Regions from separate parts of the Homo sapiens genome. Here regions 2 and 3 are each reported to be linked to region 1. The links are microRNA targets in miRTarBase. Many come from high-throughput screens and were not tested one by one. Region 1 holds a microRNA gene; each other region holds the end of a gene's coding sequence.
Evidence for each region. Region 1 holds the annotated microRNA hsa-miR-548aw (GUGCAAAAGUCAUCACGGUU, at 1,312-1,331, opposite strand). A microRNA usually pairs through its seed, bases 2 to 8, with sites in the 3' UTR of a target mRNA and lowers its output. Matches are read on the target gene's strand: a 7mer-m8 pairs with bases 2 to 8, a 7mer-A1 pairs with bases 2 to 7 and ends in A, and an 8mer does both.

Region 2: miRTarBase lists ARHGAP12 as a target of hsa-miR-548aw. Seed matches in the 3' UTR shown: 7mer-m8 at 2,518-2,524.
Region 3: the mRNA of WDR81 is a reported target of hsa-miR-548aw. Seed matches in the 3' UTR shown: 7mer-A1 at 1,795-1,801.

Annotation. Positions count from the first base shown.
Region 1 is chr9:132,944,045-132,947,044 of GRCh38, reverse strand. MIR548AW (microRNA 548aw) reads right to left here and starts at 1,338; the gene lies at 1,274-1,338. It overlaps TSC1 (TSC complex subunit 1), which reads left to right and starts at 2,429. Exons shown (of 23, transcript NM_000368.5): 1 at 2,429-2,502. It also overlaps a transcript of GFI1B not described here. RefSeq lists enhancers at 1,712-1,851, 2,212-2,511, 1,824-2,557 and silencers at 2,032-2,111, 2,642-2,701, 2,762-2,821.
Region 2 is chr10:31,805,031-31,808,030 of GRCh38, forward strand. It overlaps ARHGAP12 (Rho GTPase activating protein 12), which reads right to left. Exons shown (of 20, transcript NM_018287.7): 20 at 368-2,802. The coding sequence ends at 2,628. Among named protein-coding and RNA genes, the nearest start is that of MACORIS, 99 kb to the left of the region's middle.
Region 3 is chr17:1,737,341-1,740,340 of GRCh38, reverse strand. WDR81 (WD repeat domain 81) reads right to left here. Exons shown (of 10, transcript NM_001163809.2): 10 at 1,756-2,976. The coding sequence ends at 2,656. Among named protein-coding and RNA genes, the nearest start is that of SERPINF2, 4.0 kb to the left of the region's middle.

The sequences.
Region 1 (3,000 bases):
AAAAATCAACCCCAGAGAAGCAGAAAACATCTAGGTGGCCCAGCCTGGTAAGTGGCAGGAGATGGTAGTAGAGCTGTCTCTGCCTGTCACCTTCAGCCTCTTCTTGCAAGCCCCTGGTGGTCCCATATTGAGGTAACAATGCCCATTCTTCTTCCAGACAGTGTAGAAACAGTGACAATGTGGTTATGGCCCCCTGGAAAGTGAGCAGTTGATGAGCTCTGCTTATGGCTGCTCTCCTCCATGGCAGAATGCATTCCTGCAGGATGAGGTCATGGAGCCAAGGAAGGTCAGGGTGTGGGGGGGCTTCCTGGGTCAGAGCTCCAGAGCAGTGCTGCTCCCCCTGCCCTCCTCCTTAGGTCTCCCATCACTGGTGGTCTCAGAAATCTCTGAAGATTTCAGAAATCTTGAATCCCTTCCCTGGTGTGAATGCAAAGGGAAGAGTCTGTTCCTGTAAAGTAGTTTGCAGATTGGTGGAACTGAGAGAACCCAGACCCTTCCCCGTTTCCCTCGACCTTTCCATCTCTGGACCCCATGCAGACTATGCTTGGGTGGTGACACAGAAGAATTTAGTGTTTGGTGGACCCGTTTCTGGAAGTGATGGATGCTGACAGCTGGCACTTAACAGTTATCAAAAATAACATTAACTGGAGTAGGCTCTGTGCCACTTAGAGCTTAATGACTCACTGACTTCACCCCAAATCCCCATGAACTAGCATTATTATTAGCCCTATGTTGCAGGTGAGGAGACTAAGGCTCATCCAGTTAGAACATGATGGCTGAAACCTACATTCAAACTCTGGTCTGTTTGAATCTAGAACTCTTAGCTTCCCCCCAGCGACTGTGTTAGAACAGAGGAATCATCAGTTCAATTTTCACCTCCCTCCTAAGCCTTCGTGGCTCTAGACGTATGGTTATAAAGGTTGTTCACTGCTCAAGGGCCCAGGAGGGTTTGGGGCTGGTGGATAGGGGCCAAAATACAGCCCAGGGGTGCCATTTTTCTAATTCTCACCAAGGCCCTATACTGACTAGCAGCGGCTCTACCCGATACCATCCAGGGCCTTTTCAGAATTCTGAAGGCACCCACGGTGCTGGCTACTCACACACCTGGCCCCCCTTAACCATGGCTGCCTTGCACTGTGACCCAATTGGTTCCCATGACAAAACCTGTTATTCCCATAACTCACCCAACACTTTTTTGCCCCTAGGCTCTTGCTCCTTTGGTTCCCTCTGCCTGGAATGGCCTTCTCTCCCGAGCCGCCTCGCCTGGTTCTATTAGGTTGATGCAAAAGTCATCGCGGTTTTAATGGTAAAAACCGTGATGACTTTTGCACCGACCTAGTATTTCACAAAACCTACATTTCCTTTAAAACCCAACCTGATGCCTACTCCTTCAAAATGCCTTTCATATCCCACAGTTCGACTTCATCTCACTCTGCCTCCTCTCACAGGGCTTTGTGTTCGTGCTGGATGGAGCCCATCATACTCAGCCTCGCAATAAAGGCCACCTATCTAGTGAGTGAGCATTTACTAGGCGCAGGACTCTGGGCTAAACGCTGTCCATACTTCATCTCCTTGATTCTTCACGTCACAGATGTCATTATGCCCATTTCACAGAGGAAGAAACTGAGGCTTGGAGGACTTAAAGCCTTGTTTCAGCAGGAAACGGAATAAGGCGTTCTGATTTTCAAGCTGTCTCCTATTAGGGCTGGTTTCCCCTAGATGTCATGAGTAGGTGTGAAGTGTGAGCTACTTGAAGGCAGAAGCCAGGGGGGTCCCCCGCAATCCCGGAGGCGGGCTTCTGAAAATGTTTAGCCCAGGAAGGAGGGCTGCCCTGGCCCGCAGCTTTCCGCCCCTTCCCAGGTGAGCTGCAACTCCAAAGCTCCCAAGCAGGCCCTTCACCCACGCGGGCCCCAGCAGCTCCTTGGGAAACAGGATCGCTGCTCTGAGGCCGCCCACAGAGAGACCCTCGGAGGGCGCCACGCAAGCGAAGGGCAGAAACGACTCGGGGGGCAGGGGCAGGGCGCTCCAACCACACCCAGGCGCCGCCAGCTTGTTTACGCCTCTCCGCCGCGTCCCCCCGCCCGCCAGTCACGTGACCGCCCGCCCCGCCCCCTCGGGCTCTCGCGTGGCTCCTCCCGCCGCGCCGGCCCTTCTTTTTGCCTCCTTCGCGGAGTCACAAGATCTCTTCGCAGCCTCCTTTCGGATCCTTCCGCCCGGCCCCGCCCCCCTCCATAAAAACCCTCCTTACTTTTTTTCTCGTCCAACCCACATCGTCAGTTATGAGTGGAAGAGCCTCTTCCTTCCGGCGGGGCTGCCGAGCGCGGCCGTCTATCCTTCCTTTCGAGAAGGAGGGGAGGTCCGGAGGGGGACTCTTTTTCGTGGCGGAGGCCGCCGTCGGCCTTGGCCCTTTCACGACGGGGGAGGTGCTGTACGTCCAAGATGGCGGCGCCCTGTAGGCTGGAGGGACTGTGAGGTAAACAGCTGAGGGGGAGGAGACGGTGGGTGAGTATGGGGGTGTCTCCCCCTCCTTTTTATGGGGGCTTCCTGGGGCAGCCCCGGCACCATGACTCCAGCCGGGGAGGCTCGGAGGGGCTGGAGCAAGAGACTCACTTGCTTGGTAGGGATCCCGGGGAAGGGGGGTTCGGAGAGCTCTCCCCTCCCTCTTATTACACGCTATCTCCGGCTGGCCCGGCCGGGACTGGCGGGTCCCTGGGGAGGAGAGGCGAGCCGGACGGAGCACTTCGCCCCTCCTTGGCCCCCGAGGGGACGGCTGCACCCTGGGCCTCGGTCCCTCGGGCAGGGGCGAGGTGGGCCCCTTCGTCAGTCCCTCACTTGGTGGGGTGACAGGTTCACGCTAGGTGCGGAGGGCAGGGTAGAGACGCTTGGCGGGAGGGGAAGGGTCGCGAGGGTGGGGCTGGTCCCAGAACTTAAAGAGAGGGGTCGGGGTATAGGGGCGTGGAGAATGAATGGAGGTCGCCTGTGGGGATCAAGGACTCGCCT
Region 2 (3,000 bases), not on the chromosome of region 1:
TAGTAAAAAGGTCTCCATGTATCTGCATTATTGGTGAGTTTTCACTTGTATGTAAGCAACGGCGTGCACAAACACTTAGCACACACACACGTTTGTGTGTATGTTATAAACGCACAACCCATCTACCACTAAGTCCAAAGTTTCACCAAATTATTTCATTTGTGCTTTTCACATAAAAACAATTTATAGATTTGTCTCTATCTAAAATATAAACATCATTTTTTGGAGATTATTTAATAATTAACGTACTTTCTCCAGAGTAAAGGGTAAAATTTCTTATTTCTATAAAATTTAAATAAGTGTTTTTCTTCTAATTGGAATGTGACAATGTATTTAAATATACTTTCTTTTCTAAATCTGCAACTACCTTTTTCAATGACATTATGAAGGAAGACTTACTAACAAATAAAATTCCACTGATAATTTATTTCAGCTTTTAATATATTTTCTACTATAAAACCAAGCTGTCAAGACAGGAAAATATTACTAGCTTTGTTATTACAAAACAAGTGAGAATTTTTAATTCACAAAGGATGAAAACGCAAGACATTAATCTCACTGTACATACAATATTACAATAAACTGATTAGCTGTAGACTAATAAAACATTTAAGACTTCACACACACACACACACACACACACACACACACACACGTACCTTGAAACAAGAAACACAGGACAATTTTAATCTTTGATATATGTTCATGAACACCAAGAACAAGAACATCACTGATTTGAGTCTAATTGTTTTCCTGGTATACAATCACTAAATAAGCAAGATCTAAAGCATATTGTATTATTAAGGACATCTTTAGGCAAATATAAACATTCTGATTTAGGGCTTTTTCTCCCCACCCGAAACAATCTGCTTTAGCTATCAAGTAGTTTGGTTTGTTATCAATTTAACACGCTCACAACAACAAATACAGACTTTCTACCACAAAATTCAGGTGAGAGGTTTTTAGACAGATCATACAAAAAAATACTTGTTCCCAAGGAAGGCAATCTGTAAATTATAAATGCAACCCTAAGAAAAAAAAATCCTGGTCACAAATCACTCGCTTTCAAATATTGATGGAGAAATAAAAAGTGTACGTTGTGGGTGGAGAAATGTTGGCATGGAAGAGAGGAGAAAAGGTATGAAATGAGGAAAGTGTTATTTGCCACAGGAAATATTGGATTCAGTTGATTTTTAAAAATGAGGTATAACAGTATGCCAGTAAATGAAAAAACAAAAAAATTAGAAACCAAAATGCACATTTCCAATGGAAAAATCTCTAAACCTCTTATAGTTTTATTAGACATTTCATGTACAGAAGTTAATCTAGAAAAATACATTTTAAAAATCTTCAACAGACCATGCTCCCTGTAACAAAACCTTCCAAACCCTGTGTTTTATTATACAAAGCAATCTACATTAGTAGGTAAAAAGAAATTCTCAAATTTAGCAATGTCATTTTCCATCCAACATCCATCTAATTTACAGATGGGTTTCCACTATTCATACTGGAATTAGAATTCTGTAATAAATTTTTTCTAATGTTTTCTGTACATATTAAATAACCCAAAAGGTTCCTCTTGTAGTGCATGTGCCATTTAGCAAGTCTATTCAGTATTTTTCCAGTACCATTCTCATTACAGTGATTTGCCTGTAAATGTAGTTAATATCTAAAAGTGCACACAGTTAACTTTCCCAAATAACGGACTATTTCTGGAGGAAACCTAATATTCACAGAAAAGATTACCAATAACAATGATTAGAAATGTAGGGTTAGAATGTACTCTGAGACTATACAACACAATTATATACACAAGCTAAAGGACATTAAGTCTTTAGCCTATATTTACATAAAATAATGTGTGTTTCCACAGGGTCATACCAATAACTCAGTATGGTACTAGATATAATTAGGATTGTTAGCTACAATTCAGTATAGCAAGACAGCCCTAAAATGCCCTGAACTGACTTCCGCTAACTAAAACTCCAGTATATCACAGTGTTTTAAGTAATATTAGTGTGCTGCCCAAACAAGCAACTAAGATATCCAGTAAGGATGCTGTGTAACACAGTAAAAGACAGCAAGCCTTCATCAAGGGGTTATTTTGGGGTTATAATGAATTTTGGCACTTAAGACTGCCACTGCATGCAGAAACCCCGAAAAAGAAATACACAGGTTTCAAAATGGATATACTTCATTTTGTTTAAAATGCCCAAGAGCCTTTGCAACATAACTGAAAGTATTGTTCTATCAAGTCATGAATCTTGAGAAGAAAGTACATTATCCAATTTCAGGGAAAAAAAATACAGTTTTCTTACCAAATTATCCAGTGTATATGACTGGTTAGAATTTTAAGTTTTGATTTTTACTGAAATTCAGAGTATGAAATGCAAACATTCAGGATAAAATGAATTCATAATTACACGCAGTTATATCAACTTGCAACAAAGCAGCAAATATGAGGGCCTAACACACATCTCGACTCTCCCCTTCCCTTCTGATCCCTCAAAAAAAAAGTGCAAAATCAAAGAGTCACTGCTTGGTCCAAAAAATAAAATACATTGTGTATAAACATTTGAAATCTGATGGAATCCAGCTTCTATTCCACAGGTTGTCTTCAGTAAGAATCAACGTCCGAAGATGGAACTCAGTTCCAGAAGAATTAATTCTACAATCTGATTCTGGTACACAGTATGAACTGCTATATTACCAGTCTCTTTTTCTGGTTTTAATAGAGTGGGACCAAAAACAATTGCTATACTCTGATAGGTCATTCGATTTTTCTCTCCATTTTCTATAACTCTGAAGGGAAAAAAAGAAGTTGTTAAAAGAGAAAATAAGAGAGAGGGAAAATTCTTCAAATGGTATTATAAACCTAACAGTTTGCATTTTAAAAAGAGAAGTAATACTTATTTTCCTAAGGTGATGCATAAACTATTTAACCAAGTAGAATTCTGTCTAAATGCCATGTGAAGCTTTCTTTTTGATAAACACAGCTGA
Region 3 (3,000 bases), not on the chromosome of region 1:
ACCCTCACTGTCCGGCTCCTCACTCCCTGCATCAGGCTCCTTCCCACCCTCACTGTCCTGCGCCTCACTCCCTGCATCAGGCCACTTCCCACCCTCACTGTCCTGTGCCTCACTCCCTGCATCAGGCTCCTTCCCACCCTCACTGTCCTGCGCCTCACTCCCTGCATCAGGCTCCTTCCCACCCTCACTGTCCTGCGCCTCACTCCCTGCATCAGGCCGCCTCCCACCCTCACTGTCCTGCTCCTCACTCCCTGCATCAGGCTCCTTCCCACCCTCACTGTCCTGCGCCTCACTCCCTGCATCAGGCCGCCTCCCACCCTCACTGTCCTGCGCCTCACTCCCTGCATCAGGCTCCTTCCCACCCTCACTGTCCGGCTCCTCACTCCCTGCATCAGGCCACCTCCCACCCTCACTGTCCTGCTCCTCACTCCCTGCATCAGGCTCCTTCCCACCCTCACTGTCCGGCTCCTCACTCCCTGCATCAGGCTCCTTCCCACCCTCACTGTCCTGCGCCTCACTCCCTGCATCAGGCCCCTTCCCACCCTCACTGTCCTGCGCCTCACTCCCTGCATCAGGCTCCTTCCCACCCTCACTGTCCTGCGCCTCACTCCCTGCATCAGGCCGCCTCCCACCCTCACTGTCCTGCGCCTCACTCCCTGCATCAGGCCACTTCCCACCCTCACTGTCCTGCTCCTCACTCCCTGCATCAGGCTCCTTCCCACCCTCACTGTCCTGCGCCTCACTCCCTGCATCAGGCTCCTTCCCACCCTCACTGTCCTGCGCCTCACTCCCTGCATCAGGCTCCTTCCCACCCTCACTGTCCTGCGCCTCACTCCCTGCATCAGGCCGCTTCCCGCCCTCACACCTGCTCCTCACTCCCTGCATCAGGCCACTTCCCACCCTCACTGTCCTGCTCCTCACTCCCTGCATCAGGCTCCTTCCCACCCTCACTGTCCGGCTCCTCACTCCCTGCATCAGGCTCCTTCCCACCCTCACTGTCCTGCTCCTCACTCCCTGCATCAGGCTCCTTCCCACCCTCACTGTCCTGCGCCTCACTCCCTGCATCAGGCTCCTTCCCACCCTCACTGTCCTGCGCCTCACTCCCTGCATCAGGCCGCCTCCCACCCTCACTGTCCGGCTCCTCACTCCCTGCATCAGGCTCCTTCCCACCCTCACTGTCCTGCGCCTCACTCCCTGCATCAGGCTCCTTCCCACCCTCACTGTCCTGCGCCTCACTCCCTGCATCAGGCTCCTTCCCACCCTCACTGTCCTGCGCCTCACTCCCTGCATCAGGCTCCTTCCCACCCTCACTGTCCTGCGCCTCACTCCCTGCATCAGGCTCCTTCCCACCCTCACTGTCCTGCGCCTCACTCCCTGCATCAGGCTCCTTCCCACCCTCACTGTCCTGCGCCTCACTCCCTGCATCAGGCTCCTTCCCACCCTCACTGTCCTGCGCCTCACTCCCTGCATCAGGCCGCCTCCTACCCTCACTGTCCTGCTCCTCACTCCCTCCATCAGGCCCCTTCCCACCCTCACTGTCCTGGAAACTGCTGGGTCTCGACTTTCCCCACCCTGACACCACCAGCAAGATAAGCCTCAGGCTGGGCGTGGTGGCTCATGCCTGTAATCCCAACACTTTGGGAGGCCGAGGCAGGAGGATCGCTTGAGCCCAGGAGTTGGAGACCAGCTTGGGCAACATAGTCAGACTCCATCTCTATTGAAAAAAAAAAAAAAGACAAGCCTCAGTTCACCCCATGGCTCTTCCAAAGGATTTATTGGTCCTATTTACATCTATTGCAAATTGTGAGAAGGCAGCAGGGGCCAACCCCTGGACCTCATCTCTGTCTAGAATGTGAGGTCGCAGGGATGCTTAAGTCTTCCTCTGGCAGAGACCCGAGGTGCAGAGATGATTCTTCTCACCCCTTCTCTCAGGGTCGTGGAGCCCCAGCAGGGGTTCAGGGCCCAGAGGCTGCCCCCTCAGCTGAAGGCACAAACACTGTGGTAGGGGTGGGCAGACAACGCATGGACTCACTCCTGGCAGGCGCCACTGGCCAAGTGCACCTTTTCCCCCTGCTCCTAGCCTCCTTCTTCCTTCCCGTCCCGGTCCCACACTGGCCAGGGCCTGGATGGGTGGCCACTTAAACCCCAGACCCAAGCCCTTAACTCCTGGACCACGGCCAGCCTTCCTTAGGCTGGAATCCAAGCACCATCAGTGCCCTGGACCAGGCCAGCTTCCCTGTCCTAGAGGGATGGGACAGAGAGTGCCCAGCGGGGGCTGAGGGGCTAGAGACCGGCTGGGCAGGGCCAGTCTCCCTTCCCCTTCCCGAGCTTCCCTGTCCTCATGTGGACCCAGAGGGCAGAGCTGGGGAGAAGTGAAGGTAGCAACGCTTCCTCCTGCTCTTAACTTCCTGCTTGCTAGGAGCCCTGTGTCCCCAAGCCATGAATGAGACCCCTCTGGCAGGCTTGGTGGCTCTGGTGATTCAGGGGCCAGGACTCCCCCACTCCATTTGCAGGCCCTAGTTGGCAGGCCATGTGGGCACCCAGGGCGTGGGACCCAGGGCCTCCCTGGAGGGAGCTGCTGCTCAGGGAACAGGGTGAGTGGACACGCGCCCGCAGATGTCTTCCCACCCTTGCCCGGCCAGCTCCTGCCTCAGTCTATGCCAGGAGGCGGATAACCCCGTTGTCTGAGCCCAGCAGGAGGTGGCGTTTAGTGGGCAGCAAGGCCAGGCTGGTGAGCGTGCCGCGGAAGTTCTCAGAGCTGAGCTTCGTGGTGGCCTGCGAGGGTGGCTCAAGCAGGGAGCAGACGCCAATCTTGTTGGACACGGTGCCAGTGACCACCTCGCTGCCGTACAGGTCAAAGGTGTGGATGGGGTCGGATGCTGACTTGTAGTGATGGGTGGGCTTCTGCTCCAGCTCCTTCCAGACGGTCAAGGAATGGTCAGAGGAGGAGCTGACCAGGACGCTGCCCTCCACCGCCTGTCCCGGGAGAGGAGAGCCTCA